2 linked regions of the Homo sapiens genome follow. The protein of the gene in region 1 interacts with the protein of each later gene in a pairwise test. Each region holds a gene or a part of one and is shown on either strand. Other genes may lie near its edges.

The links.
Region 2: the proteins of UGT8 (region 1) and ADRA1A interact in a two-hybrid assay, tested with the Homo sapiens proteins (one large-scale study listed by BioGRID and IntAct).

The regions. Positions count from the first base shown.
Region 1 is NC_000004.12:114,605,102-114,608,934, forward strand, and holds part of UGT8 (2-hydroxyacylsphingosine 1-beta-galactosyltransferase precursor), read left to right. Parts: intron 1-3,833. UniProt on the Homo sapiens protein: Catalyzes the transfer of galactose to ceramide, a key enzymatic step in the biosynthesis of galactocerebrosides, which are abundant sphingolipids of the myelin membrane of the central nervous system and peripheral nervous system.
Region 2 is NC_000008.11:26,770,632-26,773,449, reverse strand, and holds part of ADRA1A (alpha-1A adrenergic receptor), read left to right. Parts: intron 1-2,783; coding exon 2,784-2,818. UniProt on the Homo sapiens protein: This alpha-adrenergic receptor mediates its action by association with G proteins that activate a phosphatidylinositol-calcium second messenger system. Its effect is mediated by G(q) and G(11) proteins.

The sequences.
Region 1 (3,833 bases):
GAAATTGACTTATACAGAATGCCACACTTAGGTAAGTGTTTAGGAGTGCATAGCCAAAATAAAAATGGTACCTTTGGTTTATGAATGGCAGGGCATCTAGGACAGTGTAGGTCAGTTCGTATTCTCTGGATGGACATTTATGTAAATATTAAAACATTTAGATTAGATGGAAAGATGTATAGTAGGAACATTTCAGAGATACTGTTTCCTTGTAGCATTGTACTATTTATCTGAATTGTTAATTTGGAATAATCACTATATTGATTTTATTTTGAAGATATAATTTATTTCCATTGACTTGATATAAATAACAGAAATGCATCTGCAAGGAATCCAGTTCATTAAAGAAATTTACATTCGTATCTGATTTGGTAAATATGTGCTTGATTTGGGAATATTATATAACAAAATATTTGTGAAATCATTTTGTACTTTTTAATTGTTTTGAAGAAATTTAATACTCAAAATATTTCAAGACACCAAATCATGACTTTTTAGTTATTACATTAAGCTATAACTTGCTTTAATGAGTAAAAACTGTGGGGCTAATTTTCTTCCAAGTGAAACATCAAGTTTAAATAATGTGCACATGAATTTACAAAGTAGAATCAAGTGTGCAAATATGCTATATGTTCTGTAATAGGTTCTTGAAAAGCTGTATATAAACTCAGCTTTTATAAGTTGAGTCATATTTATAGAATAAGAAAATAGGGCAAACATTTAACACTTCTTAAATATTAAGTGATGGGCATACAGATGTTTGTTATGTTAATCTTTATATTTTTCTGTATGTTAGAAATAGTTTACAGAAAAAAATTGTGGTTAGTGACATTAAAGCACATTATATATTAAATATACTCAGGGACTTTGAAATTTAAAGCAATATCAACATACAATTTACCATAGAAAAAATCCTATTCTGATTTTATTAATACCTGTTTTGCAAATTCAGAATTTTTAATGGGTTTAATTAAGCAGATACACACACAACAACAACAACAACAAAAAACTTGGACACACTTCTGTAACACATCTTGAATATAGTCTCATCTGTTGGAATTTTTTAAACTTCTACACTTAAGTCTTAATCTGATTCTCCCTCATCCTCATAATATTCATTATTCAGAGGAGAGGCATCAACAGGAAGAATTCAATTTTACTTAAATAAAAATTTTTTACTAGCAACGGAATGAGTGATTCAGTGGTGGTGTCTTCCTGCTTTGAGAGAGCTGTTCTAAGACTAGGCAGTTAGTCTTAGGCCTAAGACTAGGCAGTTAGTCTAGGGGCTCCACAGCAGGCCCTTCCTCTGGGTTCTCTTTATGAAGAAGGCCTTTGTGTTTTACATAGATTTTGCATTTGTGCTGCTGTCCCTATTGAGTTGTTCTCACCAAGCCAATCTGGGGAGTAGCTCTTAGGGGAAAACTAGTCAAACAGGTTTGCCTGTCTATTCAAAAGGAGGGAAGAACGGTGAAATGTATGGATAAAGGCCAAGAGTAAAACTGTTTTAAGTAATATTCATGCTAATCACTGACTGTTGGTTTTGAAAATACTTTGTAGACATTTGTGAGAATGTATCTTAATGGAGATAAAGTAAGAGAGAAACTGGAAGGGGAAGTAGTTTAGAAGCAGGGGATAAGGACAAGATGGGGAGAAGGAAGGGAAAAACAATGGAGGCAAAATAAGCTCAAGAAGGAAAGAATAGTGTTTCAGTGTCATATCTGGGCTTTATGTAAACTGGGTGTGTTATAGCAGGAAACCATGGTATTGATCTGAGAATGAATTTAATTAAAACAAACAAAAAACCCCCACATGCCTGTGATCCTCAATGTCCAAAATAGGGAGCGTCTTGCCAGGGCAGGGCTGAAGTTTACTAGGAATATTGGTGGGAAAATGTTATAGTTAACCATCTCTGATACTAATCTTATATTAGAGATAATACTTGGTTTCCCCTAGTAAAGTGTTAGAGTCATACAGCTTTATTGTAGTTTGCAAATCTATTACACATATATTTCTACTGTTTAGTTCTCATTCTGCCCCTGAAGCATAGCCCTATAGGTAGTAGCATTTTACAGCTCATAACTTGGTAGAGTCCCAAGTAACCTTTGGAAGTCAAAATGACAATCCAGTCTGGGGAATTTGATGTTAAAACTAAAGCTTCTTGCCTAGAACAAGTTTTGGAACTATAGCTCACCACCTGCCTCATGTTCTGGGAATGCTGAACCTTGATCCCACTGAAATTACCTTTAAGTAGTCTTTCTGTAGTCCTCAGTAATCTCCTCCTTTGCTCCATGCTTCTTCCCTGCTCCTTGAGAGTTCCTTCTCCTTTCTCATCTGTAATGGTAACTCCCCATCTGATCTTTGGTTGTGCCTCTTCTTCCTTCCTGGCATTTTTATTAACATCTTTTGTCCCAGCACCTCTCCTCTTCTCTATTCTCACTCCTTTGGTGTAGTTATTCATGCCCATAGACTGGATTTTTATTTATATATAGATGATTCAAAAAGCTGTATTTCTAATTGTGATTTCTTCTATACTCTCAAGAGCTTAGAGTTCCCAGCTCAACTTCCTAACTCAGATCTGACATCCCCATTTGCCTCAGTCTTCGAAGACAGATTTTGGTGTTGTGGAATTCACTTTTTTACCCTTTATATCTAATCTATTCCTAATTGATCACTATGTCCTTCATGAAGACCTTCTTCCCTTGCCTGAGTCTTTCCATTCACCTCCTGATGTCTTGGTGTAGTCCCACATCACTTCTTCACCAGTGGTACTAAATGACTCATTTTCACCATTACCTGGGCCTTCCATCACCTCCTACTGCCCACAACCATCAGTCACTTGTCCTTACTGACCCACTTGCCTTCTTTGAGTGTGATTTGACTATGCGTTTATTTTCACATGGGGATCCAAAATTTTTAGCATGGCTTTCGAGGCTGTCTATTGTCTAGCTGCTTTCTGATCAGACTTATTTATTTTCTCATATTGCTCAATAGGATTCTATCCTGTTTACCCACTGGGGCATTCATTTCAGGATATCCCCCCGCTTGAGATGTCCTGCCTTTTTTTTCTTCTGCACTTCCAAATTCTCACCCAAGGTTTTGACACTCAAGTCCCACCTCAGACTGTGGCTTCCCAGTCTCTGTCACTTTTCTGTGACTTTGATTTGTACATATATTGATGTTAGCAATTAGGTTTCATTCTCCCTCTAAGGAGAGTATGAACTCTTAGAGGGTGGAGTCTCTTGTCTCCTCATACACCTTGGACAAACACTATTGATCAGAGAGAAGATATTCAAACATGATTGAATGGTATCTTTAGTTTGTCATGAGGCAATAAGGGTAAGTTTCCTAATTTTCTATACGTATTTTGATTTTTTCCTGTTGTTTTTTCCAGAACTGCATCATTCAAACTTGAAACATTCCCCTATTTTTTTTTAACAAGGTGTTCTATATAGGAACAACATATCTTATAGGGATTGCTACATTATTTAGTCACAATGGAAAAAAAAGTTTGATATATAGAAAGATTATATAATAGTTACATGGAACTCTACTATAAAATTATAATGGTTTAGTGGGTTTTCTTTTTTAAATTTACCTGGGGCTTCTATAGGTGGATGTGCATTCACAACTAATTCTAGGTAATGCTAATAAAAGAAAATAATCACGGTGATAATTAACTGTATTTAGTTTTTATTTTGTATTTACATTTCAATGTAAGTATGCCTAATGTCATGAAACCATAGTTGGAGAAAATAATGATTATATGCATGAGGAAGATAACTTAGGAAGCATTCTAATTGTCCAACTCCCCACTTCCCCATAGACCTTTTATA
Region 2 (2,818 bases), on another chromosome or scaffold:
TCACTGTCACTATTAGTAGGAAATATTGGACAATATATAGGTTTCATAATGTAAGACAAATTTTTTTCTGGAACTGACCGCATTTGCACAAAACCATCAGTCATGTTGGCATTAGCCATTTTTTCCATCACAGATGAGGTTCGAAAAAGCATTTTTCCAATTCAGCTTCCCCCAGCTGCACACTTTATCACTCCCCATCAGCTATCCTCCTAAGAGATGTATTATTGCAGTATATTTGGAGATTCCACAAAGGAGCATGGGCCCTGAAATCAATCACACTGCCTAATTTCAAACCTACCAGTAACTATGTGAGTGACCTCGGTTGAGCTACTCAAACTCATTAAGCCACAGTTTCTTCATTTGTAAAATAGGGAAGAGTCACATAACTCTTCATGTTACTAACGATGATTAAATCATATGGAAAGTGTTCAGCACAGTGCCTTGCCTGTTTCAAATCAGGCATTCAAAGACTGTAAACTTTATTATAATTATAGGACAACATGAAAAGCTTTAGAGCTAAAGAATAAAACTTTCTCACTTTACATGTTTTCCAAATAAACACCCATTGTGTGTGTGTGTGTGTGTGTGTGAATTTGAGACACATGGAACTTAGCAGGGAGTGTGCTTCAGAGGTAATAAATGCTCCCATCAACAACCACACTATTGTGTCTTCTTTGGGTTCTTCAGTATTTAAGTTTACTCTTTGTTTATATTGATGAGCTTTTTGACTTAATTTCAGAGCACTGTTTGCCAGAGTGGATTTTAATAGCACCAGCAATTTGTCACGGCTCTGATAGGTCCACAGAGCAGAGAGGAAAAGAAAGACATAAAATCAAGACCTTAGGTTTGAAACAACAGCAACAAAAAAATTGTTCAGGGCCATTAGGAATCATCCATTCAACATACTCCTTTTTCAGATAAGAAAACTGGAGGCCCAAAGGCATCATAGGAGTTTCCCAAAGCCATTCTACCAACTGTACACGAAGCTGTGACTAAAAGCCCGCGGAGAAGGAAAAGGAGCTTGGGAGCCAAGAAAGAAAAGAAAGGAGGTGGAAGGAAAGTCAAGATGTTATTTTGCAATTTCTCTGAAAGGAGTGAAGAGGGACGTTTGGGATTTCATAATTCATAAAGCTCCTTTAGCAAAAGCCCTTGGAAGTCTGAGAATCAGAGAATAAAGAACATTGGATTGGGAGTCCCATACCCTTTATCCATCACTCTTATCAGTATTGTAGCTATGAGGTTTGTGACAATCTCTTTAATAAGCATTTTTAAGAGTTCAGCTTTTTATTGAACGTGTTATAAAATAGGTTTACTCAAAAAAAAAAAAAAAAAGCCCATATTATCATCAGACTCCAGATTCTTCTTTCTTTGCTTCCACCTTCTTCTTCTCGGCCTAGGCCACAGTGACAGAAGGGCAGGACCTCCCGCAGGTACACCACCAGCTGCTGAGCAGGTCTTCCCACCCCGCCCCTCCACTGCAGAGGAGGCTCCCGAAGTTGACGATGGCCAGGGCCTTGGCAGACAAGCCAGGCCAAAAGCCGTCATCATTTACCCCAGCTGCTTTAGAAACGACATTGACCTTATCCTATGTGATGATCCCCTCAGCGTTATACAGAATGAGGGCTGAGTCAGTGCAGGCGAGCTCTGAGATGGAGTCCGTGGTGTGGACAAGTGCAAGGCTGGGCTGCCCGGAGTAGTGCTAGTGCTGGATGCAGTGAGGGCCTGACCCCAACGCAGCCTCAGCTCAGAAGGGCAGAGCATCTTGGCGGCAGCTGGGAAAAGGCTAAATAAGCATTTTTTAAATTTGTAAATTGAGTAATTGGAGGAGATAATCCTTAAGGTTGTTCCATTTTAAGACTTCACAGTTTTGTTCTTCTGCTGCGAAATGCCCTGTGGCAGTCTCTGCGCAGGATGTGACGGGTCCTGAGGCCTGGTTCCTGCCGTGCACATCAACGGGTAGGGTTTGGGTAGGTAGAGAAGGTGGAAAAGGGCATCAAGGACACAGTGGCCCAACTTGAGAGGACAAAAAAAATGATCAATGACCTGGAGAAAAAGTGTAGTGAGTCTGGCTAGAGAAAAAATAGCAACTAGTCATATTAGAAAGCTGGTTAGACCAGAGGCTGTGGAGGACTCCGAATGTGAAGCAAAGACACACATTTGGGAGACATCGAGGGATATTGACAAAGGGAGCTAACGGTGACATCAAAAGACATCATCTAGGAAAAGTGATTGAGAATCACTGGCCCAACTTTGGCAAGGCCAATATTGTGTAAAGTTGAGATTCTCATCAAAATCCATAATTCTAACATTTGGGAGGGGAGGAATTCATAAACACTGAGGCTGTGTCTGTTGCATAACACTGCATCAGAGAATAAAGGGCATGTTCAGATAACCGAATTTTAATATGGATTACTTGCATGGATTCCAACTTACTTTTCAATTTAGGCAAAACAATTTACATATGTGGACTCAGTCTGAGTTTCACATTTTCATTTGGTAAAACTTCACAGCAGCTGTTGGTCACTGAGAGCCAGTGCAACCCTACCCACTGGGCCTGCTCCTGTAATTAATGACACACGCGGACCAAGTAGGAATGGTCTTTGAAGATATTGCAAAAGGGTGACAGTCATAGGAGCTAGTCAGTCAAATGTGAGAAACTCATATGTGTTTGGGATCATTTTAACCGTTTAAAAATACAGAAAGATGTCTGTTTGATTGTTTTCCTAGCCAATTGGCTTGCTGGCTTTCAAATAATATGTATAAATCTGTGTGTTTTCTTCCAGGGTCTTTCTTCCCTGATTTCAAGCCCTCTGAAACA